Linked DNA regions of Homo sapiens. The protein of the gene in region 1 purifies or fractionates together with the protein of each later gene. This does not show direct contact. Each region holds a gene or a part of one and is shown in the gene's direction. Other genes may lie near its edges. The genes, in order: OR10H3, PLS1, PAK2 and HMGCS1.

Region 1 (7,417 bases):
GCCTAGAATGGGGTCAGCAAGTGACATTTGTAACAGAACAACACAAACAAACCAGCTCAGAAGACCAAAATCATTATCAGTCAATGACAATGACTTTTGCAAGGTGGACTCTCACAGTGCTCTGGTTACTCCTGTTTTTCACTTGGGGAGAGTAGCCTCGAAGCTGCAAAGTCGTTTCTCCAAAGACACACAGTGATGGCTGGGGTTTCCACCCTGAGTCTGATGCCTCCACAACTTGTAAACATTTCAGGAAATTCTCTCTGGAAGCCAGAGTGGAGTGTGTGCAGAGGAGAGGAGATGAGGAGGATGGGGCAGTGGCCCAGGAGAGGGGATGGAGAGGAAGGGAGCAGATGGAGAAGTGCTTAGTAGGAGAGAGGGCGCCCAGCAATGGGAGGGATGGGGAAGGAAGATGGCTGATGCTGGAGTATGGTTTCTGGGTAGGGCAGCTTCGTGGTCAGAAGACTTTCCTTCCGTGTCATAAGTGTGGTCTTTTCATGTGGGATACGTCATCCTCACTCCAGTAAAGTTCCTCACTGTCCGGGTGATTCTGTGTTCTCCAAGCGCCTGACTGACTCCTGCTTTGGTCAGGGGATACTTCAGACAATATCCTAGTGAGACTGCTAGGGGGATGTAATGATGAATGGGCCCATCCAGAAAGAAAGATTTCAGAAACTCTTGTAGCAATGTGGCTCACATTATTCATAAAAATATTTGTTTCTTTTATGGTAGAATTCAGGTGCAAAGGTTTGAGTCCATGATATTTTCAGTTTGTGGCTTTTGATTAACATTGATTTGCGAAAGATCCTTCTCTTATTTCATTTGTTTCACTTTGTTTCCGTTCTTTGACAGGCATTTTCACACACTTAGTATGCACTTTTTGATTTGTATATGTTCTTGTAAGAAACACATTGCTTTCTGTCTGCACAAAATTTAATGTGACTATTTTAAAATGGTAAATTAATGGACTTAATTTTATTAGAGCAGTTTTAACTTTATAGAAATATTGATCAGAAAGTATAGAGAGTTCTCACATACGCTTCACCCCTGCATGTGGGATTGTCTCTCCTATTATTGACATCTTGCATTTCTGTATCACCTGTGTTACACTCGATGAACCAATATTGATGCATTGTTATTAACTAAATTTCATAGTTTGTATTAGGTTATGCTCTTTGCATTGTGTATATGGATTTTGACAAATGACATGGGTTCATTATTACTATATCATTCAGAATAGTTTTATGTACATATATTCTTAATGTGTCCACAAGAGTTCATTCTGTTTTTTTGTTTTTTTCACTCAATATTATTTTAAAAGTTCATTTATATTACTATGTGTGCATCTAACTCGTGACAAAAGCTCTATATCCTTTTGCCTCTATATCCGTTGTTTGCCTCTATATACTTTTACCTGCCTTCTCCCCAGTTAGGGACAAGCAGGCTTATCCATCACCCCCACTAAAATAACTGCTGCAGGAAACATTCTTTTACATGTCCCCCTATAAACAGGTTTCAGAAGTCAAGATAGATATACAGTAGCAAATTTGCTGGTACACAGAGCATGAATCCCATTAAAAATTTTAATTTCCAACATTCTACATGCCCACTAATAGTATGTAAGTATTTCCCCTTCCCCTTCCCCTCCTTCTCCTTCTCCTTCTGCTTCTTCTTCTTCCTCTTCCTCTTCCTCTGATGGAGTCTTACTCTGTGGCCCAGGCTGGAGTGCAGTGGCGGCATCTCAGCTCACTGAAACTTCCACCTCCAGGGGTTCAAGTGATTGTTATGCCTTAGCTTCCCAAGTAGCTGGGATTACAGATGTGTACCTCCAGCCTGGCTGATTTCTGTCTTTTTGGTAGAGACAGGGTTTTGCCATGTTGGCATAGCTGGTTTTAAACTCCTGGCCTCATGTGATCCTCCTCCCTCGGCCTCCCAAAGTGCTGGGGTTATAGGCGTGAGCCTCCGCGCCCAGCCTATAGTGCGTAAATATTTCTTTCTCCTCATAGCCCAACCAATACTGGACATTTTATAATTTTGGGAATTGCATAGGTATACAGTGAAATTCCACTCTCTCTTTCATTTTCCCCTTCCCTCCATTCTTTTCCTTTTTGTTTTCTTTTTCTTTTTTCTTTTTTTTCGAGCATCCTTTCATCTGCCTGAGTAATTCCTGTGCATTATCTTCTCACATCTTTTGCTCGTTTTTGCATTAAGATACCTACTTCTTCTTGATATAACTGGTTCCTTGTTTGTTCTAGATATAACTCTCTTGTCAGTTTTTAAGAAATTCCCCACACCACTGGATGTGCTCCTGTCGGTTTTAGACAATGCAAATAATTTTTCCCCATTTCCCATCTGCCTGTTAACTTCATCCTGGAAATCCTTTGTTGAATGGAAATCCTCAATGTTGATTTTTTTAATGTTTTAAAAATCATCTTAATGATTGTGCTTTGGAAATTTTGTTTAGGAAGTCTTTCCTCAAGCCTAGATCACAAAGTTATTCTCCTATACTTTCTTCTCTTAAATTTACACCTTGATATTTGGTATTTATTTCTTGAATGCATCTGGATCCTCCTTTGTATGTAGAGTTTGGCAGAAATTCGGATTGACTTGCTTCATAAAATGAGCAGTTTTCTCACTACAATGGGTGAACAACCTACCTTCTCCTCTTGATTTGTGCCAGTACATTTATCGTGTACTATATTAGGTTTTGAATAATGCAGGGTTATTTTCTGAGATTTCCAATCGACTTACCCAGACCTAGGTCTGTTCCACGTTTCATAATTTTAAAAATGACTATGACTCTATTGTGTGTCTCAGCGCGTGGGAGGGAACAGCTCTTCCCTTGATTCCATATTTATTTATTTATTTATTTATTTATTTTAGACAGAGTCTCACTCTGTCACCCAGGCAGCACACTGCAACCTCCGCCTCCCAGGTTCAAGCAATTCTTGTGCCTCAGCCTCCCAAGTGGCTGGGATTACAAGTGGGCCATCACACCTGGCTAATTTTTGTATATTTAGTAGAGACGGGCTTTCGCCATGTTGCTCCGGCTGGTCTTGAATTCCTGACCTCAAGTGTTCTGCCCAGCTCGGCCTCCCAAAGTTCTGAAATTACAGGTGTGAGCCACCGTGCCTGGCCTGATATTTATTTTTCTGAAGGAATTTTCAAATAGTTTTATCAAATTTACAGTTGATTCACTGGAATTGTAAATATAATACAATATTATATTATTGAGTATTATTAAGTATTGAGGTTATAATTTGAGGATGAATTGACACCATTAGCACATCAGGCCATCCCAGCCAAGACTCTATACTGCTCCCCATGTGTTCAGATCATCTTCTACATTTTTATTAGTATGTATTTAAAATTTTTTCTTTGGAGCTATGTCATGTTTTTGGTTAATTCCTAGATATTTTATAGCAGATTTTTTCAAAGTGTGACATGAGGACCTCTGCAGAGTGGTCCCTGAAATCCTTATTTTTCAAATTTACATGTGAGAATATATTTTCATCATATGCTTCAATATATTGCCACAGACTGAATGAAGAGGCAGATGAAACCATCAAGCTGTTTCCTGCCAAGCTAGGACATATGAGGTATTGGCTAAAATGTCAAACAAGGCCACTCTTCTCATGAAATGCTTTTTTCCTAATGTGATTATTTGCCTGAAAATGTTTCCCATATTAGCATTCAATAGACTTACTATTGCTCTTTAGAAATTTTTTTTTGAGACGAAGTCTCACTCTGTTGCCCAGGCTGGAGTGCGGTGGCATGATCTCGGCTCACTGCAATCTCCGCCTCCCGGGTTCAAGTGATTCTCTGGCTCAGCCTCCCAAGTGGATGGGATTACAGGCGCGTGCCCCCATGCCCAGCTAATTTTTGTATTTTTTGTAGAGACCTGGTTTCACCATGTTGGCCAGGCTGGTCTCAAACTCCTGACCTCAAGTGATCCACAAACTTCGGCCTCCCAAGGTGCTGGGATTACAGGCGTGAGCCACCGTGCCTGGGCATGCTTTTTTAAATATACTAATAACTAAATATTTTTAATAATTTTCAATTTTCATTTCCAATATGGTAAAAATGGATAGTTCTAAACCACATAAACAAAAGCCCTTTAGAGTGCTTAGTAACTTTGAGGTGTAAAGGGATCCTGAGCGATGTTTCTTTATATTAATAGTTTGTGTTGCTATTGGGACTGTTCTCTTTCTCTGTATTCAGATTATACTTCTTGAATGCTTGTTACTGGTGTGATACTAGGAGGATCACTGGGGTTTTTGCCAGCTGACCTTGCCTTCTGCATCACTGGGCTCTGTTGCTGTTCTAATACATGATGTCATCATTCTTTCATCTTTTCTAGGTAGATGATCACGTCTCTTCCCTTCCAGTCCTTAGATACCTTAGATAACTTGTTTCTTTCCCTTACCTTATACCATCACTCACGAATTTCAGCTCCATGTTAAAGAACAGCGGAATTAGTGAGTATCCTTGGCTTTTTCTTGACTCTAAAGTGATGCATGGAAAAGTTTCTTCTTCAGTGTTGTATTTGCTAATTTGTGCTATATATTCTATATCTAGTTAAGAAAGTCTCCTTGGATTTTGTGTTGTGAAGTGTTTTTTTTTAAATCATAATAGGAGTAGGGTTTTAGAGAATGTATTTATGCCTTGATTGAAATAATCATGATTTTTCTTTTTAAATCGATTCCTGTGATAAATTGTATGATAGGTTTTCTGATGTTAACCAATCTTGTCATTTATGGAATAAACCAATGCCACTTGATCATGGTAAACTATTTTTAATACACCATTAGATTTGAATAGGTTATGTTTTATTCTGGAATTTTAAATCTGCCTGGATAGGTGAAGTAGGCCTATAATTGTCTCTTTTTCTCGGTGAAGATTCTTGCCTGATTTTAGACAAAGATTGCATTAACTTGAGGAGATGTGTTTGTCAGATTTCCTAACTCTTTTCTATTTTTTTGAAGATCATGTGTAAGATTCTAACCAACTGTTTTTTTTTTTAACAGTTTAATAGTACTTACCGCACTTTAATAAAACCCACTGGGGCAAAGATTTTAGAGAGACGATCTTTGACTACCGTTTCAATTTCTTTAAAGCTTATTTGAGCATATAGCATCCCCTTTTTTCTTGCACCAGTTTTGGAATTTTATATTTTTCTAAGTACTTGTTCATTTCATCTACAATGTAAATTTGTTATTTCTTTTACTATTTTTATTAATTTAAAAATATCAATTATCTCTGTAATTATTTCCCATTTGTAATTTTGGGTTCTGTTATTGGTACCTTCTCCTTGTTTATCTTATTAATTTTTTCCAATAACTTGATTTTGATTTTATTATGCATGATTTTTTTCTTGAGGCAGTTTTTTGATAAAGGTATTTTGAGCTGTATATTTCCTTCAAAGTACTATTTTAGGTTAAAATGTTGACATTCAATATTTAAATTATCATTTAATTCTAAATATTCCTCCATTTTATGATTTACTGTTGAAACTGTAGATTATTTAATTATATAGTTATCTTCCAAACACATGAGATTTGTAAAGCTATTTCTTCCCTATTGATTTTTAATGTTAATTCATTATAATCTATATCATATTATTATGCTTTGGAATTAAATAAATTTTTATATTCTAATGAAATGTCCATTTTTGTAAAAGTCGCTGAGTGGTTGAAAGAGTGTTAATTTTCTTTTTGGTGAAGAGTCTAATATATATAATAGCTAATGTCTGGATATTATTAATTGCTTTGTAATTAATAATTAATAAATTGCATTTCTGAACTCTGTTAAAATTTCTAACTATAATAATCTATCTGCCAGGTGTGGTGGCTCACACCTGTAATCCCAGCACTTTGGGAGGCTGAGGTGGGCGGATCACCTGAGGTCAGAAGTTTGAGACCAGCCTGGCCAACATGGTGAAACCCTGCCTCTACTAAAAATACAAAAATTAGCCAGGCGTGGTGGCACGCGCCTGTAATCCCAGCTATTAGGGAGGCTGAGGCAGGAGAATCAGTTGAACCTGGGAAGGGGAGGTTGCAGTGAGCCGAGATTGAACCATTGCACTCCAGCCTGGGTGACAGAGCAAGACTCCGTCTCAAAAAAAAAATAATCAATCTGCCGTCGATTTGGCTATTTCTATCTATCTCACTGAAGTTGTATTGATTATTTGTTAATGAATATTCCAGGATATATAGTTACATGGATTTATAGTATTGATGCTGTTTGCTATGTTCTTTTAATGGGTATAAATGTTATTCTCTGTCCCTTAGTGTGTGTGCATGTGTGTGTGTGTGAGATGTAAAAATCTTGGTATGCATTGAAAAACTAAACATTTACCTTCATAGTCAAAATAACCAGATAACACTTACAAAAATAATTAGCTGAGCATGGTGGCTCATGTGTATAATCCCACCACTTTGGGAGGCTGAGACAGGAAGATTGCTTGAGGCCAGGAATTAGAGACCAGTTTGGGCAACAAAGCAAAGCCCTGTCTCTACAAAAAAAAAAAAAAAATGTTTAATTAGACAGGTGAGGTGGCACACATCTGTAGTCCAGCTATTTAGGAGACTGAGAAGAAGCATAACTTGAGCCCAGGAGTTCCAGGATGCAGTGAGTCATGATCCTACTACTGCACTGTAACCTAGGGGGCAGAGTGAGACCTTGTCTCTAAAAAATTCACAATTAGATCAATAATAATGCTTTAATATTACTCATACGTAATCATTCATTCATACTGTAATCAAAATGTTCTCTATTGCCTTAAAATACTTACAGCTGGTTATGTAGATCAAGATTCAACTAGTCCCCTATGTTGCATCCAGTTACTATGTCCTGGAATCTCTCTTATCCTTTCAATATACCTCTATCAGTGAAACCAGACCAATTGTTCTGTGGAATTATCCACCTTCTGGATTTTTCTGAAAGCTTTCTCATTATATAATTTAGCTTGTTCCTCCATCTTCTGTACAATGATTATTGTTTTTGACTAGTGGGCATCTTTTCAATCTGGTACCTGCAGGCTTTTAATATTATCCCATTACTTAGTGAAAATTTCATTTTACACTGGTAGAAGATGTCCAAGGCTTTCTTCCATGTCCAGACCACAGATCAGCCATGTGTTAAGGAACTCTACTTCCCTGTAGAGGTGTATTGTATTAGAGACCTTGCGATCATTGTTTCCTTAAATTCCACTTTTTTATTAAGGTTGCAGCCTCAGCTTTCATTTGGTGCATATTCTTCAGACATATATTTACCCATCCTTTTATTTTTGAATTTTCTATTCAGATTTATTAGAATAGTAAATGTGTAATTTGAAATAAGATGGCATAAATGAGTATCAATAAATGAGTATTAAAATAAATGTAAACGGGTTAAATAAGCAATTAAAAGACAAAGACTC
Region 2 (7,027 bases), on another chromosome or scaffold:
CTACTCAGGAGGCTGAGGCAGGAGAATGGCGTGAGCCCAGGAGGCGGAGCTTGCAGTGAGCCAAGATAGTGCCATTGCACTCCAGCTTGGGTGACAGAGTGAGACTCCGTCTCAAAAAAAATAAATAAAAAAGAGGATGGGCTCGGGAGACCGCTGGGATCAGACCCCGGCCTTTCCACTGTGGAAACTGTCAGTGCTGCAGTTTCCTCATCTGTAAAATCCATCTTAAGAGTTACTTTAAAATTATCTTAAAACCTAATTGTACATCATTTTTTAAAGAAGTGCTTCCAAATGAGCACTTTACAAAAATATCATGTTGAGTTTGAGGTATTGGCAGAACATCCAGGTAGACATAACCAAGTACATATATAGATACACAGCTTAGAGTGGAGACTCAGAGGAGGTCTGGGTGGAAATAGGGATTTGAAAGTCATTGGCATATAAAGTAACAGTTAAAACCATGTGTTTTTTTTTTTGAGTAGTGGTATTTTCGTTGTATAAATATTATGTTTATAAATCTGAAATTTGGCAGTCCATTGTTTCTTATAGATAATTTTTATAGATAAGACCTTAGAAAGGACTTCCTCATGTGTACTTTTTTTTTTGGCAATTCAGGAAAATTTAAACCTAGCTCTGAATTCTGCCTCAGCCATTGGTTGTACAGTGGTCAACATTGGTGCATCAGATCTCAAAGAAGGAAAACCTCACTTGGTCTTGGGACTTCTCTGGCAGATCATCAAAGTTGGCCTTTTTGCTGATATTGAGATTTCCAGGAATGAAGGTAAGATCATTAGAAATATTTGCTGTTCATTGACATGTACTTGCTATGGGAAGAATTTACATTTCGCTGTTTTGCCCTCAGCTCTGATTGCATTGTTAAATGAAGGTGAGGAACTAGAGGAGCTGATGAAGCTTTCTCCCGAGGAATTACTGCTGCGATGGGTGAACTACCATCTGACCAATGCAGGATGGCATACCATCAGCAACTTCAGCCAAGACATTAAGGTTTATATTTAAATGTTCAAATTTGTGACATGAAATAAGGATGTGCAGTGTAAAAATAAAAGGGGTTCAGACTTAAATTTGAATTAAATTCACAAGAACACTTGGGATAGAAAATGAAAATTTGCATTACTGTGTGAAGTAGATCCCCCAATTATATTCACAAAATATATATTTTCTAAAAACCAGATATATTGGCTTTTAATAAGAACTACAACTGACTGTGAGAGGAAAGAGGTGCTAGCCTCAACAGATTAAAACACACTTTCTCATTTTTTATGCCTGAGATCTGCTAGATTATAATGAGGATGTCAGTCTGTTCATTTGGACTAATAATTATATCTGTTTACTGGTTTAACACTCTTACTCCCACTTTGCCAATAACCAGCTAACAGGAAATCAGATTATCTGAGGGTACAGAGAATCAGTAAATAAAGGGGATCTTAAGGTATGTGCCTTAACCAGGGTAGCTTAAAACACTTCCCTCTCTACTGGGAGAATCTTGTCAAGGAAACTATAACAGGCATTTTTGTCTAATGACAACTTTCCCTTGGTTACTGCCTGGATGGGCATTGCCAAGCCGGGTCGCTGTGACTTTTTTCTTCTCTCTGTTTCTTTATGTCCTCCCCCATCCTGCCCCCCAAGAGTAATCAGTGCTGGCTCTAATTCATGTTCCGTCTTTAGCTATATAACCTTCAGTCAGGTTATCTTTTTCCATAATGGCCTACAGGACAGTCTCTCAATTTGAAGTGACATTTTATTTCTCTGCTTTCATCTACTATACACTGTTATATTTGAAAGTTTATTTGGGAGATTTCTCTTATTCTGAAATCTCTGAAAATTCAGCTAATCAAACATTTATTCAGCTCTTTCTGAGGGGCATTATGCCCAGGCGATGCAAAGACTCAGCTCTTGAGAAGCTTGCCAATTCTACTCAGAGACAAACATGTACCAGAGGGATATTTCAGTTATCTATTGCTATATAGCAAATTATGCAAAATTTGCTTAAATAATGATTATTTCTCATCATTTTGTGGGTTGATGCATCTTGGCTGGGTGGTTCTTCTGCTTCACATGGTTTTGGCTGGGATTACTAACTCGATTACATTCAGCTGTCAGTTGGGCTCATCTGGAAAGTACACAAAGGCCTCAGTCACATGTCTGGTGCCTCAGTGCTCCTCCACAAGGCCTCTCTACATGGTGAGCTCAGGCTTCCTCACAGCATGATAGTCTCAGATAGTTGGACTTCTTATGTAGAGGTTAACTTTAAGAGAGAGGAAGCAGAAGCTCTTAAGATTTGGGCGTGGAAGCCCCAGAACATCACTTTCACAGCATTCTCTTAGTTAACGTGAATCATAAGGCCTGTCCAAATTAAAGAGGACAGGAAATAGCTTCTGCCTTTTGGTGGGAAGAGTTAATGTATGCATGGGGAAGAACTATATATCCATCTTTGGAGACAATGACATTAGATGATTTAATAGTGTGATCACTGTTTACTTATTAAGATAGGCAAGGGGTGCTGTGCACTACAGAAGAGGGGTTCTTAGTTCATCCTAGAGAATCCAGGGAAGGCATACGGGAGATAATACTTGACCTGAATCTTAACTGATGTTGATGCTTGGGTGTGTAAACAGATGGAAAAGTAAGGGAGGGTATCCAGGTGCAGGAAACAGCATTGCTATAAACTCTGAGGTGTGAAACAGGATTGCTTTGAAGCTCTGAAGTGTGAAACAGCATGGTACATTCAGGAACCTACAAGTAATTCTTTATTTTTAAAGTTATTCCATTCTTTGAGATAGAGGCAATTTCTTCAGTTTGAGCACTTGTTTTCCCTAAATTCAATGATGATTTTATTCGTTTTAAAAATGCTATTTCATATCTTTCCTTGAAGGACTCGAGAGCCTATTTTCATCTGCTTAATCAGATTGCCCCTAAAGGTGGGGAAGATGGACCTGCCATTGCCATTGACCTTTCAGGAATTAATGTGAGTGCAATTTTTAACTTTTAAAATATATTGTGGTAAAACAGACGTAGAAAATTTACCATTTTTATCATTTTCAGTGTTCAGTTCAGTGGCATTCAGTACATTTGCATTGTTGTGCAGCTATCACCATTATCCATCTCTACAAACTTTTCATCATCCTGTAGGGAAATTCTGTACTCATTAAACAATAACTCCCCATTTTCCCCTTCCCCCAGGCCCTGGTAACTACTGTTCTACTTTTTGACTATGAATTTGAATTTCAGTAGCAGGTACAGTCAAATTTAGAGTACAGTTCTCTACAAGCAGCATTCCCCAGTAGAGCCCTCAGCCCTCCATTAAAGTTTGGTGCTTTGCTCTATGGAAGTTTTTTCCATGCCCAAGGCTCCAAGCCTCCATGTCAAGCCAACTGGCTATCATGACGGAAGAAAGGGAACTGCGTAATTGTGACCTGGAGTATTTGTGGAATCAATCCTACATTCATGTTTCCCTGGTGCAAGGCAATTGGAACTCACCAGGGTGCTCTTTTGACTGTCAGCATATGCCAGGAAAGGAAGCAACAACCTGTTGTTAGATTTTTAAGCAATCAATTATCAGTTTTACCAGCTTATATTTAGAAATCTACAAAATAAAAATAGATATTCATGGTGTAGGAAGGACTGATACAGATTCTGACCTACCAAGCATACTTCCTAGGAATCTCATTCTTTTAGCATAAGTTATAAATACCAGGGATGGTTCTATCTAAATCAGGATGTCCAGTCTTTTGGCTTCCCTGGGCCACATTAGAAGAAGAATTGTCTTGGGCCACACATAAAATACACTAACACTAACAATAGCTGATGAGCTAAAAAAAAAAAAAAGGTGCAAAAAAATCTAGTGTTTTAAGAAAGTTTACAAATTTGTGTTGGGCCACATTCAAAGCTGTCCTGGGCCGCATGTGACCCACCGGCCGTGGGTTGGACAAACTTGAATTCTAAACATTAAAATTTGGTCAGATAATAGACTGTATGAAAATATATCACGTACTTAAAGTGCGGCGTCCGTAACATTTGGTTTTAAAGGCAACTTGAGTCATTACTAATTAATTATATCTCACATTATTATAATGACATATTTCAGAAACACAGTATTGCAACGCTCTGTAAAATGTGCAAATCATTTTAAGTAAAAAAATTAGGAACTTAAACTTATGGAAAATTTTGAATATATTCAAGAGAACAGACTTAGTATACTAAACTATCAGGTACTCATCCCTCAGTTTCAACATCTGCCAATTCATGGTCAATCTTATCTCGTTTATTCCCTATTTCTCTCCTCTCCTATATTATTTTGAAGCAAATCCTAGACATTACTTCATGGATAAATATTTCAATATATATTTCTAAAAGACAAAGACACTTTTAAAATAAAACCACAATACCTTATCATACCTTAAAAAAATTACAACAATCTGTAACATCATCAAAATATCTAGTCAATGTTGACATTTCCACTTGCCTCATAAATGCCATTTTTTTCATAGTTTATTTGAATTAGGATCTAAAATAAGGTCCACATGTTGTCTTTATTTGTTTGTTTTTTTTTTTTTTTAGATGGAGTCTTGCTCTGTCGCCCAGGCTGGAGTGCAGTGACACAATCTTGGCTCATGGCAACCTCCGCCTCCTGGGCTCAAGTGATTCTCCTACCTCCACTTCCTGAGTAGCTGGGATTACAGGTGCACACCACCACACCTGGTTAATTTTTGTGTTTTTAGTAGAGACGGGGTTTCACCATGTTGGCTAGGCTGGTATCAAACTCCTGACCTCAAGTGATCCGCCTGCCTCTGCCTCCCAAAGTGCTGGGATTACAGGCATGAGCCACCACGTCCAGCCACATATTGTCATTTTTTGATGTCTACAATGGTAACTTTTCTTTGTTAATTTAATAATCTGTTGCTTTCTCTGATTTCATTTATATGATTAATTATTTTGCAACTCTGGTGCACAGAATTAGGTAGGTTATCTTTGGTCATGATATACTCATATGGGTCTGTGCATACCCATTTTTAAATTTATTTTTGTGTGTGGTTGTTTGTTTTGAAATTGTAACAAGCCTCATGAACTCTCAATCTAACAGGAAAACTAAAACTTTGACGTGACATTTTCTGTACAGTTCTTCCCTATCCCACCTCGGTTTTCGCCCAGTGTGGTAACCACAGTCTTGAATCTTGTGTTCATTGTTGTTCTGCTTTTCTTTTTATGTAGTTTCCCTTCATCCAAATGTATCCCTTACAAAATTAAATTCTTCATTTTACTTTTTAACTTCCTTTAAAGTTTATCATGTTATACTTAAATTTCTAGTACTTCTTTTTGGCCTTGTATCTCTAAGAGTTACCCATATTGGATGTCATTGTGTGAATATACAAATTCATTCATCTACTCTCCTGTTTATAGGTATTTGGGTTGTTTCATTTGTTTCCAGGGTTTTGCAATTGTGAAAGGTGCTTTTCCCTATGATTTTAATTTTTAAAATATGTATTTCAACTTGTTTTTCATCAAGAAGAGCCTTCTGGAAATGTCACTCAGTGTACAGTGGGTATGATAACTATGCCTGTTATCCAGAGGGCACTCTACTAGCTGGTCTTGAATAAGTTATCTATAGTGCAACCAGTAGGAGCTTACTGATACAATATTTGAGGATTTTGCTGAGTATTTTAGCAAAAAGGGTAAAATATAACTCAGTTATCCCAGCAAGGAAATTCAGAGACTTTTTTCCTTTTAACTTAAAAGGCACGGGGGCTGGGCTTAGTGGCTCACGGCTATAATCCCAGCACTTTGGGAGGCCGAGGTGGGCGGATCAGGAGTTCGAAACCAGCCTGGCCAACATGGCAAAACCCTGTCTTTACTAAAAATACAAAAATTAGCTGGGCATAGTGGCATGTGTCTGTAATCCCAGCTACTCAGGGGCTGAGGGAGGAGAATCACTTGAACCTAAGAGGCAGAGGTTGCAGTGAGCCAAGATCACGCCACTGCACTCCAGCCTGGGGAACAGAGCAAGACTCTGTCTCTAAATACATAAATAAATAAATAAATAAATAAATAAAGGAATGGGTAAGTTGACTTGGAATTACTACACATTTTGATCTTATTTTGAGTTATTATTTGATATATTTGTGGAAAAGTAATTGCTTATAAACATGTATACCAATAAAAATTATGCCAATTAAAACTTCAATTGTAACCATTTTTGTTTTATTGTTTAGGAGACAAATGACCTGAAGCGTGCTGGACTCATGCTTCAAGAAGCAGATAAACTGGGCTGCAAACAGTTTGTTACTCCTGCAGATGTGGTTTCAGGCAATCCTAAACTTAATTTAGCTTTTGTAGCTAATTTGTTTAACACATACCCGTGCCTGCACAAGCCGAATAATAATGACATCGATATGAATTTACTGGAAGGTGCGTTCTTTCTGCCTTTAATTGACTTGCTATATTTATCTTCTTATGGTATTGTCTTACTTCACTGTCAGAGATAGGGGATTGTGGTGGGAAATGCAATTTAGTGTGTGTAGGTATGTGTATCTATTGAAAAATTAAAATTATGGAAGGTGGTTGCTGGTTTTGGTTAAAAGAGAATGCTGGGGTAAATCTTTTATTTCTCCATAAGAGGTTAGTGAAAACTATCATACATTTAAAATATTCTCATAAATGATCACATAACAGCTCTACCACCAACATGGACAATGAATTATCTATTAGAATAAAATAATTATTTGTAGGTGTTTTTCTCCTTTGAAAGGTCCAGTTTGACTCTAGTATTGTTCTCTTTTTAAGGTTTTTAGTGTACATGAAAAAAATTACAGTGTTCGTTATTTGTCTTTTGTGTGGTCTATCGTTATCTGTCTCATAATATATAATACTTTCCTGTTTTGCTTCATGAAATGCAGATTTGACCCCTCCTAATGTAGGTACTGTATTTAGTACTTTTCTATACTCTATAAATATATTCATTCTGAATGTTCTTTTTATTAGTACCATTTATTCTTTCCATCTGGGTTGATAT
Region 3 (7,027 bases), on another chromosome or scaffold:
GCGTGATGAACCCGGGAGGCGGAGCTTGCAGTGAGTCGAGATCGCGCCACTGCACTCCCGCCTGGGCTACAGAGCGAGACTCCGTCTCATTAAAAAAGAAAAAGAAAAAGAAACTGGGTCAACTTCAAGACTTTAAGTCGTAAAGGTTTCCATCAGTTTGGTATAAGAGTTGAGTTTCCAGACTAATCAGAGGGAGGGTGTTAATTGCAAATTGTGTGTCCAAGCTCTTCCTAGTATCCTTTTTGTGCCTTAACAGAGCAGAATAGGAAAGGAAAAAAATCCCTCATTGCCCCCAAAAAATAAAATACTGGTTGTTTTCTTCTGTGATCAGAGTTGAGTTTCATCACTTCTTCCCTTCTAGGGTCACCTGCCTGGTTAAGGGTAGTCAGTCTGAACATTCATTCAGGATTTCAGTGTTCCAGCCTACTATCTCTGAGTTTCTTTAGTACTTACTCCATGTATCCCATGTGGTTAGGAGCTAGAGTCCTGCGTTTGAATTCTTGCTGTTCTACTTTACCCTGGGCAAGATATACATTCTTTTCAAGACTTGCTTTTCTCACCTGTAAGATGGGGATAATAATAATAATACCAATTTCACAGGGATATTTAGATCAAATGAGGGAATGCAGGTAAAGGATTCTGTAATTATAGGTCTTAATAAACGTTAGTTAATAGTCTGTTCTTACATGCTGTAGAGTCGATACTCCTAAACTTAGAATTAAAACTGCCTTCTAGGCCGGGTGCGGTGGCTCACACCTGTAATCACAACACATTAGGAGGCTGAGGTGGGCCGATCACTTGAGGTCAGGAGTTCAAGACCAGCCTGGCCAACATGGTGAAACCTATATTCTCTACTATTCTTTAGTAGAGAATTTAGTATTCTCTACTAAAAATAAAAATATTAGCTGGGCGTGGTGGCGGGCGCCTGTAATCCCAGCTACTCAGGAGGCTGAGGCAGGAGAACTGCTTGAACCCAGGAGGCAGAGGCTGCAGTGAGCTGAGATTGCGCCACTGCACTTCAGCCTGGGTGACAGAGTGAGACTCCGTCTCAAAAACAAACAAACAAACAAACAAAAAACTGCCTTCTAAAAGAACGAAGTTTCTGAGACCGTAACTAAAAATAAAAATTACTTTTGGATGAATAAAATGTAATTTTTCAGGAGAAAAAATATGTAATAGTTTCACCACTGAAATAAAACATAGGGTTTTTGAACACAAATTTCTCAGATTTAAAAATATGCATATTTCCTGTATAAAAGTTGAAAAGTGGGCAGTGGCTGGTGGTGCCTGTAGTCCTAGCTACTTGGGAGGCTGAGGATCCTTTGAGTCCAGGAATTTGAGGTCAGCCAGGACAATACAGGGGGACCCCATCTCTTAAATCAGACAAAAATAAAAGTAGAAAAAAATATTAAATAAGAAATTTGGAAAGTGGTAAAAACTTTTAAGACAAAATTACCTTAGTCTCAGCTGGCAGAACCATTGTAACAAACTGGAACAGTGGTTTTGTTCCTTATTTTAAATTTAAATTCTAAAAGCAGTACATATTTATTATAAAAGGTTCAAACAAGTCAATTAAATATTTAAAGAGTGAAAATTCTTTGGGAGACTGAGGCAGGAGGATCACCTGAGCTCAAGAGTTGGAGGTATAGTGAGCTATGATTGCACCATTGCATTCCAGCCTGGGTGACAGAGCAAGACCCTGTCTTATAAAATTCTTAAAAAGTGAAAATTACTTTCTCTTTTTAGTCCCATTCCTTAGAAGTACCTACCCGCTGTTAATAGTTTTACTTACTGAGTTAGAAATAAGTAGTACCTTTTGTGTGTCGGATACTTTTTATGTTGATTTTAAAATAAAAAATCTGATCATTAAGTATTGTTTTCCATATCATGACATATAGTGGCACCTCTACTTTTTAAGTCATTAGATATTATGCTGTATGGTAGTACTTTAATTATTTGTGATCATTTATGTTATTTCTAACTTTGAGCAACTAAAACTAGAGCCTTAATGAACTTATACGTATGTCTTTGTGCACATGCATATGTAGATAAGTATTTCCATTAAAACGACTTGTAAGTGTGCATTTAAATTTCTTTTTTCTTTTTTTTTTGAATTGCATTCCAAAAAGACTTGTAATGTATATTTCCTTATTGAGTTGTAGAAGCTCTTCACATGTAATAGATATTAATCTATTGCCTTCTGTTTAAGATCTTCCTCATTCCACCTTTACAAAAAACATTCTTATGTGTTTTCTTCTGGTACTTTTAATAATTATTGTGTTTCAATCTTTTTTTTTTTTTTGTGACAGAGTCTCACTCTGTCACTCAGGCTGGAGTGCAGTGTTGGATCTCAGCTCACTGCAACTTCCGCCTCCCGGGTTCAAGTGATTCCCCTGCCTCAGCCTCCCGAGTAGCTGGGATTACAGGCACCATACCATCGCACCCAACTGATTTTTTTTTTTTTTTTTTTTTTGTAGAGACGGGGTTTTGCTATGTTGGCCAGGCTGGTCTCAAACTCCTGACCTCAGGTGATCTGCCTGCCTTGGCTTCCCGAAGTGTTGGGATTACAGGCGTGAGCCACCGTGCCCAGCCCATTGTGTTTCAATCTTAATCTTTCTGGAATTTTTTCATGCCTGGTGGGGATAAAAGAGTTTTAAAATAGTTTTGCTACAGAAATAAAATACAGGTATAAAAATATTTGGCCGGGTGCAGTGGCTTACGCCTGTAATCCCAGCACTTTGGGAGGCCTAGGTGGGTGGATCACCTGATGTCAGCAGTTGGAAACAGCCTAACCAACGTGGTGAAACCTTGTGTCTACTGAAAACACAAAAAATTAGCTGGGTGTGGTGGTGCACACCTGTAGTTCCAGCTACTCCGGAGGCTGAGGCAGGAGAATTGTCTGAGCCCGGGAGGCGGAGGTTGCAATGACCTGAGATCAAGCCACTGCACTCCAGCCTGGGCAACAGAACGAGACTCCATCTCTAAGTAAAAAAAAAAAAAGAAGAAGTAGTAACTAGATTTTTCTGTTCATTGGTATTTTTATTATCTTACTGGACTTCAGTAAACGTCTTTATTTTGTTTTCCAGGTTCATTGTTTTATCTGAGAATAATAGTAACTTCAGTCACTTTTCTATGGTTACAATATTTAACCTTTTTTTTTTTTCTTTTTCTTTCTTTTTTAAAGACGGGGTTTCACCGTATTAGCCAGGATGGTCTCGATCTCCTGACCTCGTGATCCGCCTGCCTCAGCCTCCCAAAGTGTTGGACAGGCATGAGCCACCGTGCCCAGCCCTTAACCCTGTTTTAGGTCTTTATTACATTGGCCTGAAGTTCCAAGACTTGGTTAAACAAGAGACGTGTCGTTGTCTTGAAATGACTCTGGTATTAATATTTTTACAGTTAGGGATGATGGCAGCTGTTGGATTTAGAGAAAGATTATTATTTTATTCTGTTTCTGCTTTACAAAAAATAGGAATGGCTTCTGAATTTTATGAGATGCTATTGTAACATTTAGATGATGATATGGTTTTCTTCTTTTAACTATTGCTGAGGATATGTAATAGTAAATTTGCTATTAATCAAAGGTATCACAAGGTATATATCGTGAATAACCAAAATCCCACTCATATTAGTCCTGCGTACGGAATTTATTGAAAGGTTAGAGGAGAATCTCATATAAATTTAGATTAATAAGAATAGGCCGGGCACAGTGGCTCATGCCTGTTATCCCAGCACTTTGGGAGGCCGAGGCAGGTGGATCAGCTGAGGTTTGGAGTTTGAGACCAGCCTGACCAACATGGAGAAACCTGTGTCTACTAAAAATAGAAAATTAGCCAGGTGTGGTGGCAGGTGCCTGTAGTCCCAGCTACTCGGGAGGCTGAGGCAGGAGAATCGCTTGAACCCGGGAGGCGGAGGTTGCAGTGAGCCGAGATCGTGCCATTGCACTCCAGCCTGGGCAACAAAAGTGAAACTCTGTCTCATTAAAAAAAAAAAAAAAAAGGATAGGCCTTTATGATAACTTCTGTAGTTAACTTCTATAACCTATTCAGGAATCCTTATTCATGAGTCACTTTTGATAATTCGTATTTCCTAGATCATTTCTTTTAGATTTTCAAATCTGTTACTATATAGGTGTGTATAATCTTTTGTCATTAAGATCTGTGGTATTCATTTCCTTTTTTTTATTAGTGATTTCACTATTTTTCTGAATTTGCCAAATGTTTGTCTACTTAGTGGTTTTTTTTACTAACCAGCTTTGAGATTTACTTATTGTATTGGTTTTTTTTTGTTTGTTTTCTGAATGCCTGATTTCTACTTTTCTCTTTATTTTGCTCTCCTGCTTTTTTTTTTTGTTGTTAACAATGTTAACATTAAGTTAATGTTAATGTTATTAATTCTTAATGAATTCTTAGTTCCTTTAATGTGTTTTCGATGAGCGGTAATCGCTCCTCGGATAGACCTCATTGGCTACGATACCGCCACTGTGCAAAGCTAGTTCATTTTAATGTCTTTTAATAATAAAAACCTTTAATGTTCTTAATTTGCTTTTGAATGCAGCGTTGGCTGCACATTCTAATTTACATGGACAATGTTCTTCTGCTCAGTATTTTCCAAATAGCTGGTGGTTCTAGTTTTGATTTCCTCTTTGACTCAGGAGGTATTTAGGATAATTCTATTCACTCATATTTTCTTTCATTGTTGTCAGCTTCTATAATCTTTTAAAATATCTTTTAAACTTATTGAGTGTTTCTTGTGACTTAAAACATAATCCATTTTGGAAAATGTTCTATGAAAACTTAGAACATTTTCTGTTGGTAATATACAGAGTTTTATACATAACCTATTGATTAAATTTAATGACTAAGATTATTTGTATGAATTACCAGTTTTTATAAATAGTTCTTACTAAATATAGGACTTAGTCTTTATTAGTCCTAGTAAGAACTATAGTCGTTATTAATAATTCTTATTAATGTAAAAATCTTCCTAATCTGCCAAAGACAAAGAGGTAGCATTGTTTCTGAGAAGCTTGTTCTCACGTTGGGACCTTTAGATTTTTATTTCTTCTGCCTGAATGTCACTGAGGCCATATTTGAAAGAGATCTTTCATGATCACCTCTGCCTACCCCCACTCCGCATCTAACTTCCTGCCCTTCAGTGTGTTTATTTTCCTTTATAGCACTTCCATCTGAAGTTTCTTTTTCATTTATTTGGTTTTCTTTAATATACTATTCTGTTTTACAGAGCTTTGAACAAATAGGTATGAAATAAGTATGTGTTGGTTGAGTGTCACTCTCTTATTTCTAATGATTTTTAGAAATTTTTATTCATTTTAATTAATAGACTTTGCAGCATTTTAGGTTCACAGCAAAACTGAGCCTAAGGTACAGAGTTCCCATATACCCCATGCTCCTCATGCCCCTCTTCTCCAAGCCTCCTGCTCATCAACATCCTGCATCACTGTGGTATATTTGGCACAGTCAGTGAACCAGCATTCACACATCATCACTGCCCAAAGCCCACAGTTTACGTTAGGGTTTGCTCGTATGGTATTGTACATTCAGTGGGTTTTGACAAATGTATAACAACATGTCTCCACCAGTATCATACCGACTGGTTTCCGCACCTTAAAACTCTCTGCTCCACCTGTTCCTCCCACTTTTACTGCAACCCCTGGCAACCGCTGATCCTTTTACTACCTCCATCGCAATGCCTTTTCCAGAATGTCCCGTAGTTGGAATTATATAGCGTGTAGCCTTTTCAACTTGGCTTCTTTCACTTAGCAGTATGCATCTGAGGTTCTTCCGTGTCTTTTCATGGCTTGATAGCTCATTTCATTTTAGCACTGAATAATATTCCATTGTCTGGATGTACATTCACCTATTGAAGGACCAGGTTTGGTGATTATGAATAAAGCTGCTGTAAACATTGATGTGTGGAGTTTTTTATTGTGGTGTAAAATACATGTAACAGAACTTACCATCTTAACCATTTTGAAGTATACAGTTCAGTGGTACTAAATACATTTATAGTGTGCAATTATCACCACCATCCATCTCCGAAACTTTCCATCCTGCAAAACTGAAATTCTATACCCATTGAACCATAACTCCTCATTCTCCTTTCTGTCTGCATGATTTTGGCTACTCTTATGTACCTTATGTAAGTGGAATCATATTTTGTGTTTTTGTGACTTATTTCACTTATCCTCAAGCTTCATCTGTGTTGTAGCATGTCAGAAGTTCTTTTCTTTTTTTTTTGGGTGAATAGTATTCCCATGTGTGTATTTACCTTATTCTGCTTGTCCATTTATTCATCAGTAGACACTTGGATTGCTTCCGTAATTTAGGTACTGAGATTAATGCTACTACGAACATGGGTGTACAAATACCTCTTTGAGACCTTGTTTTCAGTTATTTCGGGTACATACCCAGAATGGAATTGCTGGGTCATATGATAATTCTGTGTTTCATTTTTTGAGGAACTACCGTATTGCTTTCCACAGCGCCTGTATCACTTCACGTTTCCACCAGCAGCGCACAGCAGTTCAGTTTCTCTACATCCTTTTTAACACAACCGTTGTTGTTTTTAATAGTAGCCATCCTAATGGGTATTAGGTGGTATCATGTTAGTTTTGATTTGCATTTCTCTAGCAGTTAGTGATGTTGAGCATTTTTTCATGTACTTATTGACCATTTGTATATCTTCTTTGAAAAAATGTCTATTCAAGTGCTCATGTGTAGGTTTTCGGGTGGACATAAGTTTTCAGCTGATTTGGGTGAATACCAAGGAGCATGATGGCTGGAGTGTATGGTAAGAATGTATTTCATTTTGTAAGAAACTGTTCAACTTTCTTCCAAAGTGGCTGTACCATTTTGCATTCCCACCAGCAATGGATGTGGGGGTTCCTGTTGCTTCACATCTTTTCCAGCATGTCATGTTATCATTGTTTTGGATTTTACCCATTCCAATAGGTAGTAGTGTTTCATTGTTTTCTGTTTTTTTTTTGAGATAGAGTCTTGCTCTG
Region 4 (7,038 bases), on another chromosome or scaffold:
GGCAACCAGGAGTCTTGCCCCCACCGACACAGAGCTTTTATGCTGTAGTTGGTCCAACGTTCTGTGGACCACCAAAGAGCAAGGATGGACTGCCCTGACCAGTTTTTGTAATTTCCTAAAACCACACATTCATTTTACTAAACGGACAGCCCCCAATAACTGTCAGCTAAACCAGTGCAATCCTATATAGGTTATTATCTTGAGCCCCCAAAGTTCTTCCCCTTTTCTAAGCCAGTTCCCTTCTTTAAGCCGATTTTATGGCATGTGGGCTAGATGTCAGGGACAGACCCTATTGGATCCTTGAAATGCATTTCTTTGATCCCCTGCCACCTGCACCTGCCTTTAAGCCTTTTTCCAAAACCTCTCACAACGGAACCATTGTTCCTCCTCCATCTACCGACAAGGCCAAGATAGCGATGGTAGAAGTTAAAGACTTAAAACAAACTTTGGCAACTGAGACAGGATACCAAGATATAAATGCCTGGGTGGAATGTATCAAATATTCCATCCACACATTAAACAAAAGCAATTGTTATGCTTGTGCACATAGCAGGCCAGAGGCCCAGATTGTCCCCTTTCCACTAAGGTGGTCCTCCAGTCGACTCGGCATGGGCTGCATGGTAGCTGTTTTCCAGGATTCTACAGCCTGGGGTAACAAGTCGTGCCAAGCTCTCTCTCTACTATATCCCGAAGTCTGACACCCTGTGGGTCGCCCCCAAGGGCCATTCAGCTTCCATCTCCCAACACCAAGTTCACTTCGTGTGTCTCACAACAGGAAGGAAACTTAGCATTCCTTGGAGACCTGGAGGGATGAAGTAAGCTTAAGAATTTTTAAGAGCTTACCAGTCAGCCCTTGTTCATCCCTGAGTGGATGTGTGGTGGTATTGTGGTGGACCTTTACTAGACACTCTGCTGAATAACTGGAGTGACACTTGTGCTTTAGTCCAGTTGGCTATCCCTTTCACCTTGGCATTTTATCAACCAGAGGAAGGAAAAATAAGACATCATAAAGCGAGAGAAGCCCCTTATGGGTCTTTCGACTCTCACGTCTATTTAGATGCAGTTGGAGTCCCACAGGGAATACGAGATCAATTTAAAGCCCGAAATCAAATAGCTGCAGGATTTGAGTCAATATTTTGGTGGGTGACAATTAATAAAAATGCAGATTGGTTAAACGACATCTATTACAACCAACAGTGATGTATTAACTACACTAGAGATGCTGTTAAAGGAATAGCTGAGCAATTAGGGGCTATTAGCCAGATGGCTTGGGAAAATAGGATAGCCTTAGACATGATATTAGCAGAAAGAAGATGAGTTTGCGTTATGATTAAAACTCAATGTTGCACCTTCATCCCAAACAACGCCACCCCTAATGGAAGTATAACAAAGGCATTGTGAGGTCTGACTGCTCTATCCAATGAGTTAGCCAGCAACTCACGGGTAAATGATCCCTTTACAGGATGGCTAGAAAAGTGGTTCGGTAAATGGAAAGGAATAATAGCCCCAATTCTTACCTCCCTCATAGTCATAATAGGTGTACTTATTCTTGTCAGGTGCTGTGTCATACCATGCATCTGTGGGTTGGTGCAGAGGCTCATAGAAACGGTACTTACTAAAACCTCCCTTAACTATCCTCCACCTCATCCAGAAAAGCTTCTTCTTTTGGAAAATCAAGCAGAACAACTAAATCAAGACATGTTAAATAAGTTTGAAGAGAAAGCTGTAAGAAAAATGCAAGAGGAGGAAGTTGTTAAATATGAATTCTAAATTTCTCTTCAAAGAATTAATATGTCAGTATGTTCCATTCTTTGCCTTCTACTTTTAAACGTAGCTTCCTAGTAAAGCAACCTTTTCTGATTACCTACTCCAACCTGACTCATTCTCCACCTTGACTCATTCTGATTACGTACTCCACCTTGACTCATTCCAATTCATTCTTCACCCTGACTCATTTCATAACCATTTTTCCCGCCATCACTGTCTTTAAATTAGTCCATCGGAATTAGTTTAGCCTGTGCAGTCTAACCCTAGCCAATAAGGGAACGACACAGCAGTGGGGACCACGTGCGTCAGGAATAAGAACCCCTTTCCCTCCCTCGTCCAAGTGTGCACTCACCATTGCTCCATCTGTAAGGGTGCACCCTTCTATAGAAGTACCTTGCCTTGCTGAGAATTAAAAAGAAAATTTTATATTCGACTGCTATTTCTTTTGCAGCATGGAAACTTTATTTATAACAAGATCTTCTGTATCTAATTACTAACCCTTTTTGTTCTCCATTGCTTGGCTTCCCAGTAATCAATAATCATGCTCACTTTGCTTAATTGAAGATTAACGTGATCAAAAAGACGGTCTGTTCCTTGTAGAAATTTCCGGTTGTGTAAGATGGTCATTCTCATGACCGTCTGGCTAATCATTTCCCATTATGTACTCCTGGAGTTGGAATTATTTGCGATTCCTAACGACAAAACTGTATCTTCTTTCTTGTGTTTGTCCTTACTGCCTTTCAGCATATTCCAATATGCCAAGAATTTTAATCTCCTACCCCACCCCAAATTGCTGTTGATCATAATCAGGCAATGTCTCTCTCTCTGTTTACTATCTAGTTACTTTACATACATATGAAGTGAGTCATGGGCAATACTGTGGAATGGAAATCATTACTGAGTGGTCCTCTTCCCCCAAGTCATTTATGCCACCACTTCACAGTGGTTCCATTTCCAATATATTTTGCCACTTTGCTGCTGAGAATGTGTCTTACTAGGTTAGCATCTATAGTGGTTAAAAGAATCTCCCATAACAATAATTGTGTGAATCACAGAATTACCAATGACCCCTTATCAATAGCATTCCTGTTAATTAAATTGAGATGGGGAGAGATACAAACAACTCCGAACCTCACTCATGGTCCCCCACCAAAGCTAAGTATTATGGCTTCTCTCTCTGACCAGATAGAGGCAGAGTTTATTGCAAAGCCACAAGTGTCCTCCTTTGGATTCCCCCAAATAGTGTTTCAGTGAATTCCTCTAGCTTGAATTGCTCCTCTCTATTTGCTGGGGGAGTTAGGCAGTCCGTATCCGATGGATTTACTATGCCGACAATTACGTGGCCTTTCCACAGCCTTTTACTTGGCAGGTACCACATATGAAGCTTAGAAGATACAGTGGGCAACAGGCCAAATGGAGTCCCTTTCCTCAGAGTGCATGGCCTGGCAAAAATCCTTGAATTCAGTATCAACTTCCCTTCACAGGCAAGGCTCTGCACCCTCCCCACGGATGCCTAATCCTGAAACCATTTTGTTTTAGGTTTAGTTAGAAAGCTTTGTCTCAAGAGCACTTTTGTTTGTTCTGTTTTCTTTAAGTCAAGGTAGTTTTGAATAAAGGAGACAATATTTGAGTATTTACAAATCGGGTATTTAGACTATTTACACATATACAAGTTCTGGGTGAAGTATTCTGCTCCAATTTGCAATCTACGCACACTTTGCTAGAAAACGTTAAGACTGAATTCAAATCAAGTACAGTATTTCAGAAATCTTTCAGGTGAAGCCTAGTTCTGGTTGCTAGGCAACCTGACAGACTCCCAAGCTGGGACCACCTCGCCTCCCACATTTGACCATCTCTCCAGCGGTGGGACGCGGAGTACCCATTGGCCCGCATCTCCTCTCACTTAGTCCCAATTGGTCGGAGAACCTCTCACTCCGCTCCCGTTGGCTCTCGCCGTATCTCGCAGCTCCGTCATTGGCAACTGGGCTCTCGTGCCACCTCACGTCAGTCTCTCACACCACTTCCTCGGCCCTGAGACTTTGTCCCCGCCTCTTCTCCCCGCCCTTCCAGCCACGAGGGAAAATCCTAGCGAGTCATCGCCTCTAGTTTCCTTTTGATTGGTAGAAGCCGGACTGGGGGGCGGGCGCTGCCGGGCAACTCTACCGGCCGCGATTGGCTGTGGGAGCCACCGTCCCGCCTCCCAGCGACTCTCGGCGGTGCCGGAGTCGGGTGGGTTGGCGGCTATAAAGCTGGTGGCGAAGGGGAGGCGCCGCGGACTGTCCTTTCGTGGCTCACTCCCTTTCCTCTGCTGCCGCTCGGTCACGCTTGGTGAGTGTCCCGCGCTGGGGAGTAGAACTGGGCTGCGGAGGTGCCGCGGGCGGGGTGTGGGCCAGACAGAGGCGGTGTCCTTGACTAGGCCCGAAGGAGCTGGGGCTCTGGGTCAGGACGTAGGCGTGGACTTTGCCCGGGAGGATGGGGCACCGTGAGCGGGGCCGGGCGGGGGTTCCCTCGTGAGGGACCTGAGGCCGACCGTAGCGGATCTGAGAAGATCCGAGAACACAGGCGAGTCGCGGAGGGGAGAACGCGAGAGGGCGTTGAGGTCTAGGTATTCTAACGACAGAGGAGTTGGAGGTGCCAGAGAGGCAGCTGTGACCGCCTAGAGGTGAGTGGGGGGTGTCAGGAGGGGGAGAGAAGACAGTTGGGCTACCAAGGCGTTTCCAGAGCGTTGGTTAAGGGTGGACGCCAAAGGATGGGCAAGATCCTCTTTAGACGGAGGCTGGTAGGTTCGCAGGGGGTGTGTCCTGCTGCCACATATAGAGTTGATGGAAAGAAGGGAAGTGGGTAGCATTACTTTTCTTCCTCAGCTCAGGTGCAAGAAAGCGTTCACAACCGTGATTTAGACCTGGCTAAGTACTGGGGCTCAGTCTGTACTTGCTTCAAATCTCATAGATCACTGCCTCCCGCCTTCCTGCCTCCATATTTTTTTTTGTCTACGTTTTAAAAAATAGGCTTCCTTGGTGTTCTGAAATCCCACATCTCTCTCCTACTAATACCTTCGGGACCAGCTTTAGGTGATACAGTGTAATGGGCAGGCACTCACAGAGTCCTCCCACAAATAGGTTTTGGATTAAGCTAAGGATATTTCAAAGCAAGTATATGGAGTCTTTGAAAACCCACGTCTGGCCTTGACCAGTGGTAGAGAAACGATTATTCTGATCCACTCTGGAGGAGGGATTTGGGGAACAAATAATGTGAGGTTGTGCCTGTTTGTCATGCTTGTCCCTATGGCCTTAGCCTTAAGGCATCAGTAGCTGCTTTCACTGCTCACCTCTGCTGCAGCTCCCCACCTTCCCGAGGATGCTCTTGCCACCTGCTGCAGTAGGATGATGTGTTCTGGTTGCTGCTAACTAACATTTGCTCTGTTTTAGGCATGAATATGAAAAACAATGACAAGATAAACAACAAAATTAAGACAAATGGAAGTGCTCCTAGAGTTAACAGATTTTTCCTTCTGAGATGTGTTTTGGACTTTATTGCACAGATACTATTAGATGAGAGGCAGTTGAAAGTCGTTAACATTATCCGTGTCAGTAGTTCTTTGCACTTGAGACACCTAAGCAGCTTGTGTTCTTTAAACTTTATTTTAAAATTGCAGTTATTTTTGTGTGAAGAAGGGGGCAGGGATAGCATACCTTATGGGAAGAGAGAAAGGCTTTCTTTGTGTCTACCTTTGTAGATATTTCTCACCTAAGTTTGTAAGTTTGCCCTTTATTCGGTTCTACTTTAGTTCAGCTCAATTCTAGTATAATCATCAGTAACCCCAGCACTCAGAAGGTCTGACTTACGCTGTGGGGAGGGAGTGTAAAAGGATATTTTATGTTTGGAGCCATAGGCCACATCATTTGGGCCTTGTTTTAATTTTGTTTTTCATCTTAAATATCCCTCCAGATTGCTTTTACATCTTGTTTCTTTTAACTGTGGATTGATTTTGAGATTTTGACTTAGATTTTAGATAGCTTTTCTCAGAAGAAATAAACGCAAAAACCCGATATTGTTGTAACATCAGTTTCCTGTGTCCTCTAGAATCATTTAAAACCTGGTTGGATCTTCCATAATCCAGTGGAATTGGATATGAGATGTAGCTGGAGAAGTTTGTTTTGCTACATATCAGAATCTCCAATTAGTTTCATTTAGAAAGGAATATAGCCTTATAATTTTATGCTGGGTTACTGTGGAACCAAATATCATAGAAGGATGTGTGATATTTTTATGTTTTTCAAGAAGGTAGTATAGATTTAAAAGGTGGGATACATATTACCTGTCCTAATGATAGGACTAGATTTTTTTTTTTTTTTTTTTTTGGGGAGACAGAATCTCGCTCTGTCGCCCAAGCTGGAGTGCAGCAGCGTGATCTCGGCTCACTGCAACTTATGCCTCCCAGTGATTCTCCTGCCTCAGCCTCCCAAGTAGCTGGGACTACCGGCATGTGCCACCACACCCAGCTAATTTTTTTGTATTTTTAGAAGAGATGGGGTGTCACCATGTTGGTCAGACTGGTCTTGAACTCCTGACCTCAAATGATCCGTCCGCCTTGGCCTCCCAAAGTGCTGAGATTACAGGCGTGAGCCACCATGCCTGGCTAGAACTAGACTCTTAATCTCTTCATCCTAATGCATGGCGTGTGTTGATGTTCACTTAATGTCTGTCAACTGGGTGTAGTTACACCAGTAGCGGAGAGGCTAATCTTTGAAAGCCTGAAGTGTTGTCTTCATCTTTGCAGGGTTTTTAGTTGTGGGTGCATATGGGAATGATTGTAAGACCAACAAATGTTTTCTGATTCCATATGGGCTTCTTACATTTTTCACCTTGGAATCTGGGAACAATTGAAACCTACCATATGCCTTGAACAGTAGCAGTAAAGAGCCAGTTTCTTTAAACTAGACATTATGGTGCTGCAGCTCATCTCAAAACTGATAGCAGGCTACTCTGGACACACTACATATAGAGTAGCCCTGCTCTGCAAGGAGCAGTAATAAATTAAAAAAAAAATTAAAAAGTGATAGCAGAAAGCACTTACTACTGAGGGCTGCTACAAGTATTAAATCTAAAAGATTTGTCCTCTAGTAGTTATAACTCCAAATTCAGCCACTGAAAAATGTGACATTTGAGTACCCTTTACTTCAAGGTCTCAAAGGGATTTCAAAAAATCAAAATATATAGCCCCTCTCCCAAAAGAAGTGTAGGAATCCTGTATGGATAAGAAGACTGCCC

Evidence for each region.
Region 2: the proteins of OR10H3 (region 1) and PLS1 purify together in Homo sapiens (affinity purification with mass spectrometry; 2 studies listed by BioGRID and IntAct, with this or other methods). This does not show direct contact.
Region 3: the proteins of OR10H3 (region 1) and PAK2 purify together in Homo sapiens (affinity purification with mass spectrometry; 3 studies listed by BioGRID and IntAct, with this or other methods). This does not show direct contact.
Region 4: the proteins of OR10H3 (region 1) and HMGCS1 purify together in Homo sapiens (affinity purification with mass spectrometry; 3 studies listed by BioGRID and IntAct, with this or other methods). This does not show direct contact.

Annotation. Positions count from the first base shown.
Region 1 is NC_000019.10:15,733,577-15,740,993, forward strand, and holds the start of OR10H3 (olfactory receptor 10H3), read left to right. Parts: upstream 1-4,408; 5' UTR 4,409-4,475; intron 4,476-7,417. UniProt on the Homo sapiens protein: Odorant receptor.
Region 2 is NC_000003.12:142,683,391-142,690,417, forward strand, and holds part of PLS1 (plastin-1), read left to right. Parts: intron 1-615; coding exon 616-781; intron 782-862; coding exon 863-1,005; intron 1,006-2,893; coding exon 2,894-2,986; intron 2,987-6,227; coding exon 6,228-6,423; intron 6,424-7,027. UniProt on the Homo sapiens protein: Actin-bundling protein. In the inner ear, it is required for stereocilia formation. Mediates liquid packing of actin filaments that is necessary for stereocilia to grow to their proper dimensions.
Region 3 is NC_000003.12:196,742,832-196,749,858, forward strand, and holds part of PAK2 (serine/threonine-protein kinase PAK 2), read left to right. Parts: intron 1-7,027. UniProt on the Homo sapiens protein: Serine/threonine protein kinase that plays a role in a variety of different signaling pathways including cytoskeleton regulation, cell motility, cell cycle progression, apoptosis or proliferation.
Region 4 is NC_000005.10:43,310,413-43,317,450, reverse strand, and holds the start of HMGCS1 (hydroxymethylglutaryl-CoA synthase, cytoplasmic), read left to right. Parts: upstream 1-4,038; 5' UTR 4,039-4,095; intron 4,096-4,269; exon of another isoform or gene 4,270-4,429; intron 4,430-7,038. UniProt on the Homo sapiens protein: Catalyzes the condensation of acetyl-CoA with acetoacetyl-CoA to form HMG-CoA, which is converted by HMG-CoA reductase (HMGCR) into mevalonate, a precursor for cholesterol synthesis.